7 linked regions of the Homo sapiens genome follow. The protein of the gene in region 2 interacts with the protein of the main gene of each other region in a pairwise test. Each region holds a gene or a part of one and is shown on either strand. Other genes may lie near its edges.

Region 1 (3,500 bases), on a different chromosome or scaffold from region 2:
TCCAAATGGAGACTCCAGGTCTTGCCGCTGACCGGTGACTCTGCTGCCAGCATTTGAGACCCGCCATCACACAGGAGTTGCAGATTCGGAGAAACCCTAACTAGCCAGGGTGCTGCCAGCTGGGAAAAGGCCGCCTTTTTTTTTTTTTTTTTTTTTTTGAGTTGGGGTCTTGCTCTGCCATCCAGGCTGGAGTGCAGTGGTGCAACTGATAGCTCACCACGGCCTCCAACTCATGGGCTCAAGGGATCCTCCCACCTCGGCCTCCTAAGTATCTGGGACTATAAGTGTGTGCCACCATGCCTGGCTAATTTTTTTTTTCTTTTTCATAAAGATGAATTCTTGCTATTTTGCCCAGGCTGGTCTGGAACTCCTGGGCTGAAGCAATTCTCCCACCTCAGCCTCCCAAAGTGCTGAGATTACAGGCGTGAGTCACAATGCCTAGCCAAAAAGCCAGTCTTGAGATGGGGAAGACGTGGCCCGTGCTGTCCCCAGCAGTGCCCAGTCCCAGCCAAAGTGGGCAGTGCTGCCTCACTCTCCCACCCACCCTCAGGGTGTGGCACTTACTGGGAAGAAGCAGGCATTGAGAAACAGAATTGAGGGGGGGAAACAGTCCAGGGCCAACAGTGCTTGGGGATTGAGGCCTGAAAATGCGAGCAGGGTACAGAGGCTGTGGCTGGCCAGATGGGTCGGGTGCCCCCTGCACTCCCACCCCCTAGTCAGGGGTCACCCATCCTACTTTGCCTTGTGTGGAGCTGACAGGTGACATGTTTTCCTATTGTTGTCCTTGACTTGATAACAATCTGGGAGTTAAACACATATGATCATCCCTGCTTTACAACTGAAAAACGAGGCCTAGAGATACTATCATCATATACACCTGAAAAACGAGGCCTGGAGCGATGGAGGAGCTTGTTCAAGGTCAGAGCCAGCACTCATATATGGGTCTTAAGACACTGGAGCAGCCAAGGGCCTCTAGACCAGGACATTCCACTCGGAGCAGCAGCTCAGGGGCCACCAGGCCTCTGTGGCAGGGGGACCTCTGTGGCAGGGGGGACCTCTGTGGCGGGGGGGGGGCCTCTGTGGCAGGGGGGTCACAGCCCAAGGAAGGGGAGCAGGCCCAGGCATGGTTTCCGTTTCTGGGAGCCAAGAGCCTTCTCAGAAGAGGGGGAGAGAGCTACTGCATGGAATCATTTGGGCCCTGGAGGCTGATGGGTACTTGGGGGAGCAATCCCTGGTGACCCCAACCAGCAAGACAAGTGCCCTGTGAAGGGGAAGGGACTACAGCTGATCAAAGGAGCAGGCACCAGTGGCCGGGCCTCCCGTCTGCCCCTCATCCTCCAGGCTCTGGCGGGAAGGAGCAGGAAGGGCTCCCTGCCCTTGGGGTTTTGATCAGTGAGGAGGGGGGCTTGGGTCTGAGTCTGGGTCTGGGTCTGCTGCCGAAACACTGCCCCCAGTCCCTCTCCTCACTAGACTCTGGGGTCTAGGCGTGTCTTTGTGGTCGGCCTTCTCCAAACCCTCTAGGCCTCTGTCTGCAGCTGCTGCTGCCTGGACCTATACACAAGGTCCCACCCCTCACCGGGGCCAAAGACGTGGTTGCAGGCCCTGGTGGATCCTTTCTGTTTTGCTCCATCCCCGTCCCCTCTTGCACCCAGCATCGTCCTGGTCAGAACTTCCGTTTAAACCTTCCTTGCCTGCCGTGCACTCCGAGGGGGGCGTCACTTTGCCATAGGCCCCAGGGCTGAAAATGGCGGGACATCCAGTATTGGGCTCACGTGCATAAGACTGTCCCAGACAGCAGCACAATCACGTTCAGCCAAGTGGAGTTTCCGACGCACTTGTGTGGCAGCCGCGTGAATGTGAGCCGATATGCAGCTGGGAGGGGTTGTGGGCCTCCTGCGGTGAGGGGCTCCTGCCAGGAGCTCTGAGAAGCCTCCACAGAATCAGCCGTCGGGCTCCTTCAGCAGCAGCTCCCCTTATCTGTGCCAACGACTGGGGGCCTAACTCAAGGGTGCCAGCCCGTCTTCCGCCAATACAGACTGTGGGATTCTGAGAGTTAGGAGCCTGGGGTCCCCTGGGGTGGGGTGGTCAGGGTGAGCAGGTGGGCTCTGTGAGCCTGTTTCCCCATGCCCTGACTCACCCCAATCCCTGGGTGAGGACAGAGCTCCTGAAGGCCACTGAAGGAGGTGCAGCACACTCCACCTGGGTGGCCTTCCGCAGCTCAGCCCTCTTCCTGCCAGCAGGAAGCCTCTGCCTGTGCTCCTTAAGTTAGCCATCCTCACCCCCTCCGGGCAGCTCTGAGACTGAGCCAGGGCCACTAGCAGCACCCAGACCTCGACCCTTCTCAGACCGAGGCGCCACCACCCCAGGCCGAGGAGGCAAGGAGGGAAGACCAAAGTCTAGAGGACTGTCTTGGTGGCCCTGGGCGAGTCTTGAACTTTGGTGCCATCATCTGCAAAAGGGAGGAAAGAATGCCTGCGTGGTGCAGCTACGTGGATACGCAGTGAAGACCCGCATGGTGGGACGCCTGGCACTTAACAATGGTAGCATTTGGCCGGGCGCGGTGGCTCACGCCTGTAATCCCAGCACTTTGGGAGGCCGAGGCGGGCGGATCACGAGGTCAGGAGATCAAGACCATCCCGGCTAAAACGGTGAAACCCCGTCTCTACTAAAAATACAAAAAATTAGCCGGGCGTAGTGGCGGGCGCCTGTAGTCCCAGCTACTTGGGAGGCTGAGGCAGGAGAATGGTGTGAACCCGGGAGGCGGAGCTTGCAGTGAGCCGAGATCCCGCCACTGCACTCCAGCCTGGGCGACAGAGCGAGACTCCGTCTCAAAAAAAAAAAAAAAAACAATGGTAGCATCGTTTTCAGTGCCCAGGAAGAAGGCAGCTGGGACAGGGAAAGGGCCACCACACCACACCCAAGCCCATACAACAGGAGAGCCACTTTCAGCAGCTCTGAGCAGGACAGACTTGTGGCCAAGTCAAGAAAGTAAGGTCTGGTCCCAGCGAGGTGGCTCATCCCTGTAATCCCAGTGCTTTGGGAGGCCGAAGCGGGGGCGGGGTGGATCACTTGAGGTCAGGGGTTTGAGACCAGCCTGACCAACATGGTGAAACCTCAACTCTACTAAAAATACAAAAATTAGGGCCGGGCGCAGTGGCTCACGCCTGTAATCCCAGCACTTTGGGAGGCTGAGGCGGGCGGATCACAAGGTCAGGAGATCGAGACCAACGTGGCTAACACAGTGAAACCCCATCTCTACTAAAAATACGAAAAAAAAAAATTAGCTGGGCGTGGTGGTGGGTACCTGTAGTCCCAGCTACTTGGGAGGCTGAGGCAGGAGAATGGCATGAACCCGGGAGGTGAAGCTTGCAGTGAGCCGAGATTGTGCCACTGCACTCCAGCCTGGGCGACAGAGCAAGACTCCGTCTCAAAAAAAAAAAAAAAAAAAAAAAAAGTAAGGTCTGTATCTGCTGACCCCACCCTTCTCCGAAGCCCTCTCC
Region 2 (3,500 bases):
TTTCTCCCAGGGAGTGAGCCATAACTGGTGGCTGCTCTTGCGCCAATGAGCCTCCCCAATTCCTCCTGCCTCTTAGAAGACAAGATGTGTGAGGGCAACAAGACCACTATGGCCAGCCCCCAGCTGATGCCCCTGGTGGTGGTCCTGAGCACTATCTGCTTGGTCACAGTAGGGCTCAACCTGCTGGTGCTGTATGCCGTACGGAGTGAGCGGAAGCTCCACACTGTGGGGAACCTGTACATCGTCAGCCTCTCGGTGGCGGACTTGATCGTGGGTGCCGTCGTCATGCCTATGAACATCCTCTACCTGCTCATGTCCAAGTGGTCACTGGGCCGTCCTCTCTGCCTCTTTTGGCTTTCCATGGACTATGTGGCCAGCACAGCGTCCATTTTCAGTGTCTTCATCCTGTGCATTGATCGCTACCGCTCTGTCCAGCAGCCCCTCAGGTACCTTAAGTATCGTACCAAGACCCGAGCCTCGGCCACCATTCTGGGGGCCTGGTTTCTCTCTTTTCTGTGGGTTATTCCCATTCTAGGCTGGAATCACTTCATGCAGCAGACCTCGGTGCGCCGAGAGGACAAGTGTGAGACAGACTTCTATGATGTCACCTGGTTCAAGGTCATGACTGCCATCATCAACTTCTACCTGCCCACCTTGCTCATGCTCTGGTTCTATGCCAAGATCTACAAGGCCGTACGACAACACTGCCAGCACCGGGAGCTCATCAATAGGTCCCTCCCTTCCTTCTCAGAAATTAAGCTGAGGCCAGAGAACCCCAAGGGGGATGCCAAGAAACCAGGGAAGGAGTCTCCCTGGGAGGTTCTGAAAAGGAAGCCAAAAGATGCTGGTGGTGGATCTGTCTTGAAGTCACCATCCCAAACCCCCAAGGAGATGAAATCCCCAGTTGTCTTCAGCCAAGAGGATGATAGAGAAGTAGACAAACTCTACTGCTTTCCACTTGATATTGTGCACATGCAGGCTGCGGCAGAGGGGAGTAGCAGGGACTATGTAGCCGTCAACCGGAGCCATGGCCAGCTCAAGACAGATGAGCAGGGCCTGAACACACATGGGGCCAGCGAGATATCAGAGGATCAGATGTTAGGTGATAGCCAATCCTTCTCTCGAACGGACTCAGATACCACCACAGAGACAGCACCAGGCAAAGGCAAATTGAGGAGTGGGTCTAACACAGGCCTGGATTACATCAAGTTTACTTGGAAGAGGCTCCGCTCGCATTCAAGACAGTATGTATCTGGGTTGCACATGAACCGCGAAAGGAAGGCCGCCAAACAGTTGGGTTTTATCATGGCAGCCTTCATCCTCTGCTGGATCCCTTATTTCATCTTCTTCATGGTCATTGCCTTCTGCAAGAACTGTTGCAATGAACATTTGCACATGTTCACCATCTGGCTGGGCTACATCAACTCCACACTGAACCCCCTCATCTACCCCTTGTGCAATGAGAACTTCAAGAAGACATTCAAGAGAATTCTGCATATTCGCTCCTAAGGGAGGCTCTGAGGGGATGCAACAAAATGATCCTTATGATGTCCAACAAGGAAATAGAGGACGAAGGCCTGTGTGTTGCCAGGCAGGCACCTGGGCTTTCTGGAATCCAAACCACAGTCTTAGGGGCTTGGTAGTTTGGAAAGTTCTTAGGCACCATAGAAGAACAGCAGATGGCGGTGATCAGCAGAGAGATTGAACTTTGAGGAGGAAGCAGAATCTTTGCAAGAAAGTCAGACCTGTTTCTTGTAACTGGGTTCAAAAAGAAAAAAATAATAAAAATAAAAGAGAGAGAGAATCAGACCTGGGTGGAACTCTCCTGCTCCTCAGGAACTATGGGAGCCTCAGACTCATTGTAATTCAAGCTTTCCGAGTCAAGTGATTGACAACTGAAGAGACACGTGGCTAGGGTTCCACTGGAGAATTGAAAAGGACTCTTGAGCCCTCCTGGAATGGAGCTGTATAACTGTGCAGAGACTTTATCCATGCCAATAGTTGCTGTCCCCTTCCAGGGGTCACCTTGAGAGGCATGACAGCTGTTCCACAGGGGCTATCCCTTCTCAGAAAACTTCTCTTCTGAGCCTCTTTAACAGCTTTCTCCAGAACCAGTGTCTGAACCACCCTGGAAATTCTGCCTTATTATTTCTTACTCAAACATGTTTAGAGTGGATAGAAAATTATGCAGCTTGCACACCCATCGTCTTTAACCCCAAATTTCCTTTGGCTATTAAAAAAGTGGTGGCAAAAGACATCCTCAAAAGAAAGAGAAATGAAATATTTTTGAATGGTTGCACGTTAAAAATTAAAAGAAGGAATGGGGGCAGAATGCCATATTTTTGAGGGCTGTACTAGGTTTATCTCATTTAAGCCCCACAACACCCCACAGGAGGGTAATTTTCTAACTCTAGTTTGCAGAGGAGCAAATTGAGGTTCAGCAAGGTGAGAGAGGTACCCAAGGTCACATAGCTAGTTATGTGAGAAAGTTAGAGTACAGATCCTCTGGGGTTTCAGCTTATTGTAGCATATTTTCTCCGAAAGGCAAAAATGTGCCCTTTTGGCCGGGCATGGTAGCTCAAGCCTATAATCCCAGCATGTTGAGAGGCTGAGGTGGGCAGATCATTTGAGGCCAGGAGTTCAAGACCAGTCTGGCCAATATGGAGAAACCTTGTCTCTACTAAAAACACAAAAATTATCTGGGCATGGTGGGGCATGCCTGTAGTCCCACTTACTTGGGAGGCCGAGGCACGAGAATTGCTTGAACCCGGGAGGTGGAGGTTGCCGTGAGCCAAGATCACGCCACTGCACTCCAGCCTGGGCAACAGAGCAAGACTCTGTCTCAAAAAAAAAAATACAATATTTTAACAATGTGCCCTCTTAAGTGTGCACAGATACACATACACGGTATTCCCAAGAGTGGTGGCAGCTCAAAATGATATGTTTGAGTAGACGAACAGCTGACATGGAGTTCCCGTGCACCTACGGAAGGGGACGCTTTGAAGGAACCAAGTGCATTTTTATCTGTGAGTTCTGTTGTGTTTGTCAAAAAGTCATTGTAATCTTTCATAGCCATACCTGGTAAGCAAAAACTAGTAAAGACATAGGAACATGTAGTTTTACTTGGTGTTTATGTTGCAATCTGGTTGTGATTTATATTTTAAAGCTTGGTGCTAAACCACAATATGTATAGCATATGGAGTGCCTGTACAAGCTGATGTTTTGTATTTTGTGTTCCTCTTTGCATGATCTGTCAAAGTGAGATATTTTTACCTGCCTAAAATATGATGTTTAAAAGCATACTCTATGTGATTTATTTATTTCTACCTTTCTGAGTCTCTTGGACTAAGAAGATGTTTTGAAATGTACCATCAAATGTTAACAGAGTTTGATATGGGCTTTCTCTTTGGTTTCTCATCACATTTGTAAATGTCTTTTCAAAAGGATTTACTTTTTGTAAAAAGCTTCATTCTCACTCTGCTTTGCATCCCCCAAACTTC
Region 3 (3,500 bases), on a different chromosome or scaffold from region 2:
GCCGTCAATGATTTAGGAGATCGGACAAATGTGTATTTACTTTAAGACATAATTTTGTAAGTTAATTAAAATGATACATACTTTCTGTCTAATTATTTCTTATCATTTGTGTCTACATAACAGCAACGCATACTGGGTCCTGTGGGGGAAATAAAGGTTAATTGAAGGCTCTGACATTTGCTCCTTAATTAATAGGTTTTATATTAGAGAATTATGATTTCATCTTGGAAATTGGATTTACTGACAGCCATTTAGAAACACAGCTGTTTTATGAATTGAAATATACCTTAACACAGAAACCTTTTGTGAAAGTATTAATTGGTAATTTACTAAATCTTTTTAGGGAGGTAACTGGTTTGTTTCTAGTGTAACCCTTTATATTTTACCTTAAACATTTTCTTAATTATGTAAATTCGTAATAATCTTCTTTTTTCATGTTTGAATATTTTCTTCAGAATCTGTGAGAAGGGAGATGTGACTTGGAAACTTCTCTAAGTTTTGCTAAAGAATGTACGACGATGTTTCTGCCTTTGGGCTTGCCATTCCTGTTCTTTTTTTGTGTGTATGAAACAGAGACTTGCTCTGTCACCCAGGCTGGAGTGCAGTGGTGCTCTCTTGGCTCACTGCAACCTCCGCCTCCTGGGTTCAAGCCATCCTCCAGCCTCACTCAGCCTCCCAAGCAGCTGGGATTACAAGTGTCTGCCACAACACCCGGCTAACTTTTAAAAATATTTTTAGTGTAGACAGGGTTTCGCCAGGCTGATCTTGAAGGCTGGGCTGGTCTTGAACTCCTGCCACCCGCCTCTGTCTCCCAGAGTGCTGGGATTACTTGCCATTCCTGTTCTGTAAAGTGTTCTGCTCTCCCTATTTCTGCAAGGAGAATTCTCATGCGTCGTATAGCATTGCATTTGATTCATATGTCTCTTATTGCCCTGATTGTGTATTTTAAAGATCTCTTTCCTTTTTTGCCTTGAGATTGAAGGATTTAAAGGAAGGAATCATTTTTTAAATTCATTTTTATATAGCAAGTGCTTACCCCACAATATGCATTCAAAAATATTTGCTAAATTAATGATTGAGACCCATTATTGTCTCCTTTTTTGCCTAATTATATTTTCTCTCTTTTTAAAATCTTTCTTTATGCAGTGCCCTAACCATTTCTAATATTCAGGCTGGATCTACTGGAAATTGGGGCTGTCATGTCCAGACCAAACGTGGGAATAATACGAGGACTGTGGATATTGTGGTATTAGAGAGTTCTGCACAGTACTGTCCTCCAGAGAGGGTGGTAAACAACAAAGGTGACTTCAGGTCAGTGTTGTGGAAAATACGGGGAAAAGTTTAATTTGTCCCAGATCCTTCTGTTGTCTAAGACACATTATTGGTTTCCTGTCCTGAGTAACAAAATTTGAGAACTGCACATGTCTGAGGACTACCCTTTAGAATAATGATTTCAGAATCACATATGGAGATGAACAAAAGGGGTGCTTGAACTTTATCTCAGACCTGTTGATTGAAGAATCTCTGAAAGTAGAGTCATTTTTAACAAATGGTTTTGTTGTGTAAGAGCCATTGCCTTAGGGAAACATTGGAGATATTCTGGTAAAAGAGTACAAAATTCAAACAGGTTAAGTAAGGTATTTTCTGTTTTTTTTCCCCCCAGTGGCTCTTTTATAGATGAACCTTGGAAGGTTTTATATTGCTAAGGTACTTTTCACTACTGGCAGTTCAGTAGGCATCAGAATTAGAAGAAACACCTATCTAATTTTCTCCCCTTGTTCAGTTCTTCTGGAAATCAAGCAAGAAGGACTTTGGGAAATGAAAGCTGTTGGGTAGCCTGAAACTTGGGGAGCCATGGAATCCCAGGTGGGGTTTGTTAATCTAAGCAAAGGGAGTTATTTATTTATTTTTTTATTTTAGTAGAAAGTTTAGGATTTGCAAGAGATGACAGCTTTTACCTTAAACTCTCTTTACTTTCAAAGGTGCTTTAAGACATCTTTAAATATCTTATTTACTTGATCTTATTTATGTTCAGGGATTTAAAAAATGAGTTTATAGTTGATATGAACAAAGGGAAATATGTTATTCTTTGAAGCAGCATAAAGATTGTTTATTACCCAGTTTGCATTGTCTCTAATGGGTTCAGTTGTTACCTCCTGTCTCTAACCTCAGTGTTTCAAGGGTGGGAAAACCCTTTGGTGTTAATCTTTTAAATCCAAAGTAAAGAAGCAATAATAACATCTTTATCTCAGCTAGTTTGCCATTGCTCTTTTTAAAAAAGTTATTCTTGACATCAATATATGGAAATCAACATTTATTATTGCCAATGGATAAGTCTTTTATGTAGATTAGGTATTGATCTATAATATTTATAGTACATGCTTTTAAGTGAAATATATGATATTTGGTAATTTTGTTACATTCAACATCTTTTATCAAATAATCCTAATATGATATTTACTATTTATGGTAGATTTTCTATATTCTCATAGTTTTGAGTGCTTTACATTTTTAAAAATAGAGCAATTAAATGTTTATAGATCAATGAATTATTTGTCTTTGACACTCCTTAAGATATTATGCAATTAAATTCCCACTGCATTAATAAGATTTAGTTTAGTGTTGCTTGATCTATTTATGTGGTTTTTGTAATGAATTCTGTTTTGGTGTGACTGATACTGTCATTTAGTGGTTCCTGTGATGAGCATCCATGGTAACTTGTATTAAACATGTTGAATTTCATTCTCAGTTTTGGAGACATAGAGTTCAAATAACAAAGGTTTCTCCCAGCCCAGTTTTGATGACCCGTGTCAGGGTTGTATTGACATGACACATCTTCATCTTTGATTTTTTTCTCTGCTGTTGTTATTCTTGATGTACCCGTGTCATTTAGATTTTCTTGTACTATTTTGTCTTCATCTCTAGATGGCCCAGAACATTGGCAGGCATTACTGCATATCTGCAGTGTACGCGGAACACCCATGGCAGTGGGATATATCCCGGAAACCCACAGGATGAGAGAAAAGCTTGGCGCAGATGTGATAGAGGTGGCTTTTGGGCAGATGATGATTATTCTCGCTGTCAGTATGCAAATGATGTCACTAGAGTTCTTTATATGTTTAATCAGGTAACTAGAAAGTCTTCATGTTTACTTGGGTTGTGGAGAAAACATGGTATTCAAACCAAATACATAAGTTTTTTTTTTTTTTTTAATACTAGGCAAAACATAAGGATTTTGTGTTTTTACTTTAGTTGACTTAACTGTCTTCAGGATCAGGTCCATCTTAATCACTAGTCAAGGCCCTCTATAGAATCCTTCCTTTGCAGTCACCATCTCCCTTTGTGCCTTTGTTTGAATATCTTTTTTTTAATCTGTATCCACCAGACAGAATCCTAACCATCCTTCGAGTTCACATTGAAAGCCACCTCTTGGATTCATTTTATAATCACTTTGTTGAAAGCGATTGCTTAGAATACTTGAACTACTCATGTGCTTTTTG
Region 4 (3,500 bases), about 120 Mb from region 2:
GTAACACAGCAAGTAGTTAAACTGGGTTAAGTGATTAACCCAGGTTGAGTATGGTTCCAAAATCTCTTACAGTGTCAGGCAGGCTACATCAGTGCAGTATACGTACATCAGGTTTCACGAAAAATTTTTTCCAGAGAAAACACAAACCCAAGGAACCTTCAGTAAGTGGTGCCTTATATTAGTGGTTTTTAGCAAAAGGAAGAAACTTAAGTGTTTTCCTGCTGCCTGACAAAAGTGAAAAACAGTATTTTGGTTTTTATTGAAGTTAGCATGTATGTTTGTAGCTTGCATAAAATAGTACTGAAATCCAATTGATTATGAATTCTTGGACTAACAGAACCTGGATGACAAATTAGAGGTTCTGGCCTGGTTGCTGGCTTTTTTAGTTGTCTTGGGTGTAAATTTCTCAGCCACACGTGGGGATTGTGTTAGATAATCTGAAATCTAATTTTCATGGTTTTATGATTCAGCAGCTTTCTTCCTTTGATATTTTCTAGTATTTGCTTTATTATAGATTGGAATCCTCAAAATAACATTGACAAGTAGAAGATACTTCTGTTAGTGGATTTAAAAAAAAATTACATTGGGAATGTCCTTTGAGTGGTTGGCCCTAATCCCTGTCAGAAGCTGAAAGTTGTGGATCCTAAATTCATCTGGGCAGAATCTCACCTATGATTTCAGAAAGCTGAGAGTTTCAGAGAGTGACTGTAGTCAGTCCTTAGTGAGTACAAAATTGAGAATACATCATTACTTTAAATTAATGGTGCAGTAACTCTTGTGACTGATAGCAATAATTTAGGTGCTTTGTTGTTAGTACTTGATTAGATTGGATTGGGTCAGTTAGTTTCACCAAATTGCTAAAGACACCTGTCCCCCTAGAATTAAAATACTGAGTTACATAATGGCTACTAAAAGGATAACTATATGGGGTGTTCGATGATTCAAAGGTGAATTACTTGGTCTCTACCTTCAAGGAATATGATACAAGGCAATATGGTACTGCCATTAGACAGATATTAACAAAGTGTCTTGGGACTTAATAGGGAGGGTAGTTCCAGGCTGGGAGATGTAGTCAGATTCTTTTATAGAGTTGGCATTTGAGTTGGCCCGTGAAGGTTGGAAAAAGTTGTGACAGGTGGAAAAGGAGCAGGGGAGACCAGGACAGTGCAGTGAAATTCCAGCCAGGAGCAGTCACAGGCAATGAGACAGACTCATGGAGCCATGATTCTCAGCTGTCTTACCTTACCTTAGTTTTCCTAAGGAATATCATGGAATTCTGTAAAGACCTTTAAACTAAATAATGTTCATATGAGATGAGTGCTAGGATGGGGACCTGCTGCCTAATATAAGTAGTGTGAGTCTAAAACATTGTGGAAAGTGGTTAGTTTAATAATGTTATTAAAGAGACAAGTCTATCACAAGGGACCAGTTACCAGTGAAACTGTAGACCACCTGATTCACTGCGATAGGGTTAGCCAAAGGGAGGAGAGGGCAGATTGCATACATAGTACCTAAGGCCACTCAAAGACCTCTTTTAAAATCACGTGTCATGTTGATGACATTTGGAGGCTATTAATGTTTTTCTTCCCTTTTAAGACTTAGTGTTTTCTTTATTAGCATTAATTTACTCTAGTAAACAAAATTATGTGTGACTAAAAATGGCAAAACAGGCTGGGCGCAGTGGCTCACGCCTGTAATCCTAACACTTTGGGAGGCCAAGGCGGGTGGATCACTAGGTCAGGAGATCGAGACCATCCTGGCCAACATGGTGAAACCCCGTCTCTACTAAAATACAAAAAATTACCTGGGCGTGGTGGTGCACGCCTGTAGTCCCAGCTATGTGGGAGGCTGAGGCAGGGGAATCGCTTGAACCCAGGAGGTGAAGGTTGCAGTGAGCCAAGATGGCGCCACCGCACTCCAGCCTGGTGACAGAGCGAGACTGTCTCAAAAAAAAAAAAAAAAAAGCAAAACATCTAAAACTTCTGTTATATTCTAGTGTGTAAAGTTCTGCCTTTGCCACTGAGATGCATATCTGTTTTACAGAATAGTTTTTTTTCTTTCTTTCTTTCTTTGAAGACGGAGTCTTGCTCTGTCACCCAGGTTGGAGTGTGGTGGCCCAGTCTCAGCTCACTGCAACCTCCACCTCCCGGGTTCAAGCGATTCTCCTGCCTCAGCCTCTCGAGTAGCTAGGACTACAGGCGCGTTACCACCACGCCTGGGTAATTTTTTTATTTTAGTAGATTTGGGGTTTCACCATGTTGGCCAGGATGGTCTTGATTTCCTGACCTCATGATCCGCCTGCCTCCCAAAGTGCTGAGATTACAGGCGTGAGCCACCACGCCTGCCCTAATTTTGTGTTTTTAGTAGAGATGGAGTTTCACTGTGTTGGTCAGGCTGATGTCCAACTCCTGACCTCAGGTGATCCTCCTGCCTTGGCGTCCCAAAGTGCTGGGATTACAGGTGTGAGCCACTGTGCCCATCCTTGTTTTGTATTTTCTAAAAGAGATGTATCTTGTTTAAATATTAAATTATAAGATATTCAGGCCTTGCAAATTGTCTGGATTACACTGTAAAAGTAATCATTTATGTGCAAATAATTCCTTGAGATCAATAGTTAAATGAGCTCAAGCTGATCTGACTAAATTGGAGAAGATACAAAATGAAGATGGGGAGGAAGTGGTGCCATAAGCAGCCTTTTTTCTTTGACCATTTTATATGCCTTTTTTTTTTTTTTTTTGAGATGGAGTTTCACTCTTGTAACCCACGTTGGAGTGCAATTGCTTGGCTTGCAACAACCTCCACCTCCCGGGTTCAAGAGATTATCCTGCCTCCGCCTCCTGAGTAGCTGGGATTATAGGCATGAGCCACCAAGCCTGGCTAATTTTGCATTTTTAGTAGAGACGGGGTTTCTCCTTCTTGGTGAGGCTGGTCTCGAACTCCCAACCTCAGGTGAACCATCCTCGTCGGCCTCCCAAAGTGCTGGGATTACAGGTGTGAGCCACCGTGCCCTGCCCGCCATTCGTTTTTTTTTTTTTTTTTTTTTTTTTAATTCTGACTCTTCTGTGGTGGAAACCAGCAAATACTTCACATAATTTAGGATGCTAATACTAGTACAGTTAAAAGAATGATTACAAAGCAGATACTATTTCAAATTCTGTAAAAATCTGTTTTTAATATCCTTCACTGGCTGTTTGTTCTGACTAGAAATGTTTTGTATATCTGAAAGCACCAGTAACTCATAGCCATATAATTTTTTTGGTAATATGTTCATAGGCAAGTGGCAAGAGTTAGTAGAAAGATTTCTCTAAGAATTTATCCTAAATCAGATTACACAGAGTTGGGGTAAGTGAGTATTGTGTTATTTTCTTTTGTATATTTGACAATGGGAACTTTTTGAAACTCAACTTCAGTGTAATTTTAAGTCACTAAATTTGTCCACAAGTTAATGATTAAACAGTTACTGAAAGTGGAGAACCTTGCCATTTTTCGGACTGCGTTTT
Region 5 (3,500 bases), on a different chromosome or scaffold from region 2:
AGGATGCCCCTCCTGTGATGACAGGTGGGGGTGGATGGCATGCTTGGTGTGGTTGTGGAGTGCTTGAAGAGCTGTGGCAAGTCTGAGGGGGAGCCGTGGGAGGCACCTGGGCATGGAGGGGCTGAAGCCCAGGAGTAGCCAGCTGGGCAGGGAGTGAAGGCAGCCCAGAGCATGGGGTGGCACGCCGTGGGAAGAGAGGGGGCTCGGCCTCAGCAGCAACTCAGGGACTTTGCAACTTACAACCACAAGATCTTTGACTATCACAGCTGAAGGGACCTCTGGCATCACCATTGTTCTACAGGGAGGATATTAAGGCCACCTACCTAGGGACCCAGCTGTCCCTGGCATTCCTGGAAATGGAGCCTGGGATGTTGACACCCACGGCCACGTGAGCTCAGTGGCTTGGCTGCATAAAGTGGAGTCCCACCCATGGTGTGACCGTCATGTGTGTCACATGTGAGGCTGTCGTATGCCTGATTGTGTGCTGAGCCCATGCTTAGTACAGCGCAGAGCAGGCTGCTAGATCCCTGCCCTCATATCCACCAATCTTGCCCCTCCTCCGGGTGAGGAGTGTGCCCGGTGGTCCCCTAGGCAGAAGGTGTCGGCCAAGGGGCAGCTGACTGCAGCTAGAGCCCTCAGCACAGCACACGAGGCTGCAGTGGCGTCAGGGGCTTAAGCAAACTGTAAAGTGGGTAACAAGTGATGTGGCTTGTGATGTGGCACCACTGAGCCCTGAGCCCCAGACTGGGCCAGGTGGCACTGCCATGGCCCCTCACCTCCTTCCTTTTTCTTCTACTTCTGGTGCTGACTGGCCCCTTCTAGCCGGCCAGTGGCATAATAGGGATGGAGGGACTGATCTGCAGGGTGTCCAGTCCCGTGGTGTGATACCCCCACCTGGGCTCATTTCAAGCCACCAACATGGCATTAACGCTTTACGGAATTCCTGAATAGTTAACAGTCAGCACTTGTGAACTGGCAAGGGACAGCCCAGGGAGCCACTGGGGAGAGGAGCCCGGGCTTTCTATCCACAGCGGGTTATCCTTCTTCTGTCTGTCCCTATCTGTGCTGTGCCGCATGCAGGCTCTTTTTTTTTTTTTTGAGATGGAGTCTCGCTCTGTCACCCAAGCTGGAGTGCAGTGGCGTGATCTCAGCTCACTGCAACCTCTGCCTCCCAGGTTCAAGCAATTCTCTTGCCTCAGCCTCCCAAGTAGCTGGGACTACAGGTGCATACCACCACAACCGGCTAATTTTTTTTGTATTTTTATTGGAGATGGGGTTTTACCGTGTTGGCCATGGTGGTCTTGATCTTCTGACCTCTTGATCCACCCACCTTGGCCTCCCAAAGTGCTGTGATTACAGGCGTGAACAACCGTGCCCAGCCTGCATGCAGGCTTAACCATCCCTTAGGTCTTCACTTCCAGGTGGGAAAGGGGCCAAGGGAGGCACTGTCACTGTCTTGCTTGTTCTGTTGAGGTGTAGCGTGTACATTTCTGAAGGTGAATATTTACTTAGATGACTTAGCAGGATGACCACCCTAGTGAGATACCTCCATGAGTGAATGCATATGTCTTGCTGAGATGAGGTGACTGAATACACATATGAACATAAAACCTACTGTGTCCTCACCCACGTCCTTGGAGGAATACACGGGAAACTCATGGAGTTGTCTTCAGCCTCCCAGCGAGGAGTCTGGTGGGGGAGCTGGCTCTGGAGGACAGCCTGTTTGTGGCATCTCTGCCTCTGTCCGTCTCTGCCTCTGCCCACTGGGCTGAGGGCACGTGCCCCAGGGCCTTGGGGAGGCAGCCCTGCCTCATAGCTTGGGGCCTCAGTTCCAGCCTCTAAGAAGCCATGTAGTTGCATTCTTCATTACTCACGTGTTTTTTAAAATCTGAGACATAGTTCACATATTATTAAATTCACCACTTTAGATTGTAAAATTCAGTGGTTTTTCGTGCATTCACAAGGCTGTGCAACCATCACCATTAATTCCAGAACATTTTAATCATTCCTAAAAGAAACCTTGTACTCATTTGCAGACAGTCCTCATTTCCCCCTCCTCCCAGCCCTGGCCACCAGTAACCTGCCTTCTGTCTCTACAGATTTGTCTGTTCTGGACATTTCACATAAATGGAGCCATATATTATATAGCCTTTTGTGCCTGGCTTCTTTCATTTATTAACAACATATTTCCAAGATTCATCCGTATATTGTAGCATGAATCAGTACTTCATTCCTTTTTCTGGGTGAATAATATTCCATTGTGCCATAGTTTGTTTCTTCCTTCATCCGTGGTAGACATTTGCATTGTTTCCACTTTTTGGCTACCGTGAATAATACTGCTATGAACATTCCCATACAAGTTTTGGTGTGAACATACATTTTCTCCTTGAATATATACCTAGGACTGGAATTGCTGGCATATGGTAACTCTATGTTAAACTTTTTGAGGAATTATCAAGCTGTTTTCCAAGTAATTGAACAATTTTACATTTATTAAATTTTACACCAGGAATGTATGAAGGTTCCAATTTCCCGACATCCTTGCTGATGCTTGTTATTGTTGTCCGGTTTAGTAGGTGTGAAGTGGTGTCATATTGTGGTTTTGATTTCCATTTCCCTAATGACTGATAATGTTGAGCATCTTTTCATGTATCTGTTGGCCACTTGTAAATCCTCTTTGGAAAAATGTCCATTCAAACTCTTTGCCCATTTTTTAAATCGGGTTGTCTTTTTATTGTTGAATTGTAAGAGTTCCTTATTTATTTGAATACTAGACACTTCTCAGACATATGATTTGCAAATTTTTTTTTTTTAAGATGGAGTCTCACTGTGTCGCCCAGGCTGGAGTGCAGTAGTGCAATCTCAGCTCACTGCAACCTCCGCCTCCTGGGTTCAAGCGATTCTTCTGCCTCAGCCCCTCCAGTAGCTGGGACTACAGGCGTGTGCCACCATGCCTGGCTATTTTTTTTTTGTATTTTTAGTAGAGATGGGGTTTCACCATGTTGGCCAGGCTGGTCTCAAACTCCTGACCTCAGGTGATCCTCCCGCTTCAGCCTCCCAAAGTGCTGGGATTACAGGCACGAGCCACCGTGCCCAGCCGATTTACAAATATTTTTTCCTTTTCTGTGGATCATCTTTTCACTTTCTTGATTGTGTCGTTTGATACACACGTTTTAACTTTTAATGAAATCCAATTTATTTCCTTATTCTTTAGTTGCTTGAGTTTTTTTTGTCATGTTTAGGAAACTATTGCCTAATCCTGGCTCATGAAATGAAAACATCTGTTTTCTTCTAGGAGTTTTATACTGTTAGCATGTAGCTATCCAGTTGTCCTAGCATCATTTGTTGATAAGACTACTCTTCGCCCCATTGAATGGTCTTGGCACTCTTGTCAAAAATCAGTTGACCACAAATATATGGGATTATTTTTGGACTCTCGAGACAGGGTTTCACTCTTTCACCCAGGCTGGAGTGCAGTGGCAAGATCTTGGTACATTGCA
Region 6 (4,058 bases), on a different chromosome or scaffold from region 2:
AGTAAGCTAGTGAGCAAGAGAGCAAATGTATGGGGCTTTCCCATGCCACTAATATCGAGGAGACAGTGGGCTGGGGACACCCTATCTTCTATCCCTTACTCCTCCCTCTAAAAGACTTCTGGCTCCCCCGCAAAGCCTTATTGAGTCAGGCCCGGAGCGATGGGTGTGGTGCTGCCCAGTATTTCCTTCCTTTGCCTGAGGCTGTGCCAAAAGAGCAGGCTGCTAGAAGAGGAGCCTCGACCTAGAGAGCAGCCCAGAGTCCACCAGGTGGCCGGAGATTTGGGCCAATTAAGTAGGGGGTTGGAGGTAGTAGTAGGAAGACCTGAGGTCAGTCTTGCCCTGGCAATTCGTGCCAGCAAGTGAAGACCCAACACTTGCATGAGGAAGGGATCCAACGAGGAGCTCATTAATGGGAAATATTCAGGAGCGCGGCCGAAGGGTTTGCGCCATTGTTGGTGAGTTGTTAAGACTTGGAAGAAAACTGACTTCAGTAAGCTTCCATTTCCACCCCTCGATGTGAGGAAATAAGATCAGGGCTGACAAACAGTGATGACTAATAATACCTTAAGCTTGCACAGCATACTTTACAGTTTACAAAACACTCTTATTTGATCCTCACAACAGCCAAGAGGCGACAAGGTGGCTATTACTAATTATCCCTAGTTTCCAGACCTGGAAAACTCTGGCTCAGAACTTGGGTGACACGGGTAGGTTACCCCGCCTTTAAGTGACCAAGCCGAGACTTACTGTGCCGCTCTCCCCCTTGGAAGCCTAGTGATGTGCCTAGGTAATGAGCAGGTAAAGTCGCTGACGCTGGGCAGCAGCTAGACGGCGCTGAAGCTCCAGTAAGGAATTTGGCATTAGGACCCAGCAGAAGCCTGGCCGCCCGCCGCGGAAAAGACTATTGGATTTGCTCTGCCGACCACACCTCCTCCCGCCCCGCCTACCTGTCCGTCTTCGCACAGCGCAGCCAATTGGTGGCCTCCACATCCTTATACGTCATTATTCTACGCCCAGGTGGCTCTAGGACACCCTGTGGTGCTCTGGGTCGCAGTTGTCCTCAGAGTTGCCTGATTGGAAAAATCTCCAGGGCGAGGGATCAGTCTCGAGGCTGCCGGTTCCCCTGGCCCTCAGGGATGGAGCCAAGGTCCCAGGGCGGGTTTTCTTTCCTAGGAAGTGGTTGCTGGGTTCTGAGGAGTTTCCCCCTTGGCAGCCATGAGCCGGCAGTTCTGGTAGTGACTGCTGGGCCCTGCTGGACAGCGGTCGCATGCAGCTCCTATGAGGCCCCTGCCGCCGGTCGGCGATGTCCGGCTGGAGCTGTCGCCTCCGCCGCCGCTGCTGCCGGTGCCGGTTGTGAGCGGGTCTCCAGTCGGCTCCTCTGGGCGTCTCATGGCCTCTAGCAGCTCCCTGGTGCCCGACCGGCTGCGCCTGCCGCTCTGCTTCCTGGGTGTCTTTGTCTGCTATTTTTACTATGGGATCCTGCAGGAAAAGATGTGAGCGACCCCGGGGGCGGGCCGACAGTCTCTCCCCAGCCTGTGACAGGGATCCCGGGCCTTCTGCCTCTGGACCCGGGCTTTCCTCTTGTCCTCCTGCCCGGCTGTCGCCCTCTTAGCACCCTACTACTTTTGCAGCTATGGCTGAGCCTACCCAGAATTCCAGAACTCCAGGATTATTTTCTGGATTCTTCGGACTTGGTTATTTTCTTTTCTTAGCTGTTTTTCCCCGCTTGGTTCTAAGGGCCTGCGTTTTACAGGCTGAGACTTCTATTCCTCAAACAGGACCCGAGTCGGCCCCCTTTTGGTACTCCCAGATGCTTGCAAACAACCTATTCGTCCTCGGCCTTGGTGCCATAGCCGAAATACCGTCTCCTCCTGCCTGGGGTACCTGATTTCACTATCTCGTTCTGCATGTTTCCTCTCCGTCTTTTTCGGGTATTCTTTTCTTAGGCTTTGGAATCAGTAGGCTGGGATGTCTAGTTTCTAGATCCAGTAAAATCAGCCCCTTTTGCAAATGAGCCTAGTGGTCCTTAACAAACTCTGCCTACATCCAGAGAGGCAAGATAATTTTAAAGTTTTCAGTGGCTCGGGATATATTAGATGACAGTGAGTGAAATACACTAATTTCTCCCTCTTTTCTCATGCATTTCATTTCTAGAACAAGAGGAAAGTATGGGGAAGGAGCCAAGCAGGAGACGTTCACCTTTGCCTTAACTTTGGTCTTCATTCAATGTGTGATCAATGCTGTGTTTGCCAAGATCTGTGAGTACCCAGATAGTAATTTGTTGGGTACCCCACCACCCCAAGTTCCCTCAGTATGCTGGGCATTAAGCATTGATTCAACCTTAAAGGCTAACTCATGATCTCCACCCCATTTTGTACTTACACAGCCTCTCTGTGAAGTCTGTAAAACTAATGACTTTGAAGTGGAGTAAAATATTATTTCCCCAATTTTTATCAGCTTCTGAGTTAGAAATGTTCAGAGAATGGGTCTTCTATATTCCAAATCCCCATTGAAAATACTTAAAACATTTTTTTCTTTCCCTTTGAGTTTCTTTTGTGTGTCAGCTTCAAGCATGCTTTGAGCATTCTCTCTTTGTTCCCTGGGGACTAGCAGCAGAGCTGACTGGTCCCTTGAACTGAATGAGGCCCCCACCTCCACCCTGCATGTGGTCTTTTGTTGGGCTTAGGTAGAATTGGAAAGATGAATAATTTTCAGAGATTTCCCAGTGTAACAGGACAGAAATAGCTTGTGTCTTGTTTGACAGACAAGTTCCTTTCATGTGGCTTCAGCTTTGCTTAGTGGTCCATCCTAGCCCCACCAGGTTTCTCTTGTTTTTTTTTTTTTTTCTTTTCTTTTCTTTTTTTTTTTTTTTTTTTGTCTTCTCCCAGTGATCCAGTTTTTTGACACTGCCAGGGTGGATCGTACCCGGAGCTGGCTCTATGCTGCCTGTTCTATCTCCTATCTGGGTGCCATGGTCTCCAGCAATTCAGCACTACAGTTTGTCAACTACCCAACTCAGGTGAAACCTCAGGGTGGGATGATGGTTGGCTCAGATATCATTTGAAAAGGACTAAGAGTTCTTCCCTCAGGTCTGTGAGTTAAAAAAAAAAAAAAAAAAAAGATAACGGTCCTGTAAGACATTGGGAGTGTATAGAACCATAGAACTTACGTTTAGTGGTGGTGGGTTGGGCCATGATAGGGCTGCTTTCTGAGGCTGAGGTCTCTGGTGCAGGCCCTGTGCTTACTCATCTTAATCAGTGCGGTACCTAGCATAGTACCTGACACATCACAGATGCTCAGAAATTATTTGCTGGATTTAATTTCAGGTCCTTGGTAAATCCTGCAAGCCAATCCCAGGTAAGCAAAGAAGATGGTCTTCCTCTTCTGTCGTCACTCTTCCTATAGTAAGCTCTCTCTCTGCTACAACTGTGTCCCTCTCGGCTTCATCATCCCATCATGGCTGTCTCCAGGGACTTTCCCCCAGCTCTCCCTGCTGCCCATCCTGTCATCTGTGTCACTTCTTGTGATGTTCATAGGCTGGTAATCCTTAATAGGAGCTAAAGGCTGACCTAGCCTGCTTCACTTGGTCAGCCATTTCTGTGTTGCATGTGTTTATATTGTCATTAGACAACTTAATTCCCATTTTGATCATCAGTTTCTTTATCTCAACTTCTTTTCCTTCTCCACTGTTCCCTACCCTTGTCCTGTCCCTTCCTGGACTTTTCACCTTTGTTCTCTACCTCCTCCCTGTCTTATACTTAACCCTGTTGCTCAATCCTTATCTAGGTGCCAGCCTGGCACCCTCCTTTTGTCCTCTCTAAGCCTTCCTTCTCAGTCATTCTTTTCTCCCTGAGTCTTTTCTTGGTTCCTGGGAGGGAGGGCATTGGGGTCATCAATACCTTATGGATGCCTGAATTTTCCACTCTGTTTTTTCCCTGTAGTCATGCTCCTTGGGGTGACCCTCTTGAAGAAGAAGTACCCGTTGGCCAAGTACCTGTGTGTGCTGTTAATTGTGGCTGGAGTGGCCCTTTTCATGTACAAACCCAAGAAAGTTGTTG
Region 7 (2,390 bases), on a different chromosome or scaffold from region 2:
TACATATCCATGTTGTTATGTATGCATTTATTCCATTGCTTCTACCCGCTATACCTCATCGTGTACCTCTACCACATGTCATCTTCCCCCTTTTCCAAGGACAGCCACTTGGGTGGCTTCCAACTTGCCCAACAACTATTCTACAGTTATTTTATGTATGTTACTTTGGCTCCAGCTCAATTGTGAACTGCTTGTAGATAAGGACCATGTTTTTCTTTACCTGTTACTCCTGCTGATTTCCTATTAGTGCCTGTGCATGTTTTCTGCTGTAAGGTGTTAAATGTTAAAGTAAAATTAATAATAGTAGAAGTAAGGAGTTGCCAGTGGAATCTTCCTGAGCTGAATCTAATCATGGCTTTACCCCTTACTAGCTTTGTGACCTTGACCTTGGAAAAGTAAAACCTTGTTGGTCTTTCTTCATCTATCAAGGTAGGTAATACCATCTATCTTAGTGGGCTGTTATGAGGAATGAGTTAATTAACTAATACTAAGCACTCCAGTACAGTAGAAGACATACAACAGGTGTTTAATGAATAATAGGTGCAATGAATCCTACCTGCTGCTTCAAATTACAGCCATCTGTACCTGTCAACTTTTCTAAGAGTATAAGCATCTTGGAGGTAAGGTCATTTCAAATACTTCTTTATATCTGGTCATTACCCAGCACTCTGCTTTGTGTGAAATATTCTATACATTTATGTTGCTATGGTTTGGATGTTTTTGTCCCCTCCAAAATTCATGTCGAAACTTAATCCCCAAAGCAACAGTATTAAAGGATGTGGCCTTTAAGAGGTGACTGAGTAATGAATGAGATTAAATGCTCTTTTGAAAGCATTTTGCTCCTCTTTCCCTTCTGTCCCTTCCACCATGTGAGGACATACATTCCTCCACTGTGGAGGATGCAGCAATGAGGTGCCATCTTGGAAGCAGAGATCAGCCTTCACCAGACACTAATTCTGCTGGTGCATTGGTCTTGGAATTCCCAGCCTCAAGAGCCAGGAAAAACAGATTTCTGTTGTTTATAAATTACCAAATCTGTGGTATTTTGTTATAGCAGCACAAATGGACTAAGACAAATCTGTTAACTTAGATTTTAAGCATATGTGCTAAAGTATTTTAAAAGGTTATTTTATCCAAGAATATAGTATGAGTTAATACCTTTTTTGCAAGATTCATGGCAATCTTTTATTATTTATTTTTTATTTCATTCCATGTTGGAAGCAAAGTCATATCTATTAAAAAGTAAAATCACAAATTAGTCTTTGATTATTCAGAAGCATAAGAAGATTGCTGTTTTCATGTTTTCCATTTCTCCCTCCAGTGGCTTGAAAAGTACAGGTGCTCTTTTCAGTCATGTTTTGTCTTAAAGATTTTAAAATAAGAAGAGTCTGCATCCTGTAAAAGAGGGACAGAAACATGGATCAGTACCTACTCCTATTTACTCCAGTTTTTAACATTTAAGTCCTTCTGTTTTGAGGAGCTGTATCATTATGATTCACTATTAAGAATCTTTACAAAAGTTCAGAAACTGCTTAAATTAGAATTTAAAAATCATAGCCAAAATTCTAGATGTACACAAAAGTACTTCTAATGAGTTTAGCATCATCTCTGGTTTAGAGGAGGTATAAATAGCATTGGACTGCAATGCTAAATTCTCTATAATGACTTTTCTGGATCAGCATATCATACCTACACTGACTTGCCCTAATAAATAAAAACAATGAGTCAGATTATGTAGAATTGAGATATATGGAAGATAACTCTTTAAAATTATTTGTGGCCAGGCAGGCACTGTGGCTCATGCCTGTAATCCCAGCACTTTGGGAGGCCGAGGTGGGCAGATCACCTGAGGTCAGGAGTTAGAGACCAGCCTGGCAAAACCCCATCTCTACTAAAAATACAAAAATTAGCTGGGTGTGGTGGTGTGCACCTGTAATCCCAGCTACCCGGGAGGCTGAGGCAAGAGAATTGCTTGAATCCAGGAGGCGGAGGTTGCAGTGAGCTGAGACTGCGCCATTGCACTCCAGCCTGGCCAACAAGAGGGAAACTCTGTCTCAAAAAAAATAAAAAGAAAAAAAAATTATTTGTGAACTTTTTGTATATTGCTTAAGGAATAAAACAAGGCAACCTGATAATCCCCAAGATGTGATGTTTCTTTTCAGAAGATATGCATTTACCACTTTCAAAACTTTGCACTAAGAAAGACAAAATAATAATAATGATAATACAAAATTCAGTGTAGCCACTGTTCTTGATCCCTAAAAATAATAAAGATTCATAAAAACAAAGTTCCAGACATACAGACTAAAGAAGCAAATTCTAGTTAACAAGTACTATTAGCTTGAAATAAGCTATGCTAGCATTTTCTTAACTTAGACGCTTATCAATAA

Evidence for each region.
Region 1: the proteins of HRH1 (region 2) and SLC43A2 interact in a two-hybrid assay, tested with the Homo sapiens proteins (one large-scale study listed by BioGRID and IntAct).
Region 3: the proteins of HRH1 (region 2) and ADGRA3 interact in a two-hybrid assay, tested with the Homo sapiens proteins (one large-scale study listed by BioGRID and IntAct).
Region 4: the proteins of HRH1 (region 2) and CNBP interact in a two-hybrid assay, tested with the Homo sapiens proteins (one large-scale study listed by BioGRID and IntAct).
Region 5: the proteins of HRH1 (region 2) and LIMS2 interact in a two-hybrid assay, tested with the Homo sapiens proteins (one large-scale study listed by BioGRID and IntAct).
Region 6: the proteins of HRH1 (region 2) and SLC35B1 interact in a two-hybrid assay, tested with the Homo sapiens proteins (one large-scale study listed by BioGRID and IntAct).
Region 7: the proteins of HRH1 (region 2) and DHRS7 interact in a two-hybrid assay, tested with the Homo sapiens proteins (one large-scale study listed by BioGRID and IntAct).

What each region holds. Positions count from the first base shown.
Region 1 is NC_000017.11:1,569,835-1,573,334, reverse strand, and holds part of SLC43A2 (large neutral amino acids transporter small subunit 4), read left to right. Parts: 3' UTR 1-3,500.
Region 2 is NC_000003.12:11,258,993-11,262,492, forward strand, and holds part of HRH1 (histamine H1 receptor), read left to right. Parts: intron 1-10; 5' UTR 11-45; coding exon 46-1,509; 3' UTR 1,510-3,500. UniProt on the Homo sapiens protein: G-protein-coupled receptor for histamine, a biogenic amine that functions as an immune modulator and a neurotransmitter.
Region 3 is NC_000004.12:22,436,067-22,439,566, reverse strand, and holds part of ADGRA3 (adhesion G protein-coupled receptor A3 precursor), read left to right. Parts: intron 1-1,146; coding exon 1,147-1,311; intron 1,312-2,925; coding exon 2,926-3,127; intron 3,128-3,500. UniProt on the Homo sapiens protein: Orphan receptor that may have a role in planar cell polarity pathway.
Region 4 is NC_000003.12:129,173,897-129,177,396, reverse strand, and holds part of CNBP (CCHC-type zinc finger nucleic acid binding protein), read left to right. Parts: intron 1-3,500. UniProt on the Homo sapiens protein: Single-stranded DNA-binding protein that preferentially binds to the sterol regulatory element (SRE) sequence 5'-GTGCGGTG-3', and thereby mediates transcriptional repression. Has a role as transactivator of the Myc promoter.
Region 5 is NC_000002.12:127,669,031-127,672,530, reverse strand, and holds part of LIMS2 (LIM and senescent cell antigen-like-containing domain protein 2), read left to right. Parts: intron 1-3,500. UniProt on the Homo sapiens protein: Adapter protein in a cytoplasmic complex linking beta-integrins to the actin cytoskeleton, bridges the complex to cell surface receptor tyrosine kinases and growth factor receptors. Plays a role in modulating cell spreading and migration.
Region 6 is NC_000017.11:49,705,165-49,709,222, reverse strand, and holds the start of SLC35B1 (solute carrier family 35 member B1), read left to right. Parts: upstream 1-1,258; 5' UTR 1,259-1,278; coding exon of another isoform or gene 1,279-1,389; coding exon 1,390-1,493; intron 1,494-1,778; coding exon of another isoform or gene 1,779-1,880; intron 1,881-2,154; coding exon 2,155-2,258; intron 2,259-2,888; coding exon 2,889-3,019; intron 3,020-3,326; coding exon 3,327-3,357; intron 3,358-3,941; coding exon 3,942-4,058.
Region 7 is NC_000014.9:60,143,619-60,146,008, forward strand, and holds the end of DHRS7 (dehydrogenase/reductase SDR family member 7 isoform 1 precursor), read right to left. Parts: exon of another isoform or gene 1,396-2,390; coding exon 1,348-1,395; 3' UTR 501-1,347; downstream 1-500. UniProt on the Homo sapiens protein: NADPH-dependent oxidoreductase which catalyzes the reduction of a variety of compounds bearing carbonyl groups including steroids, retinoids and xenobiotics.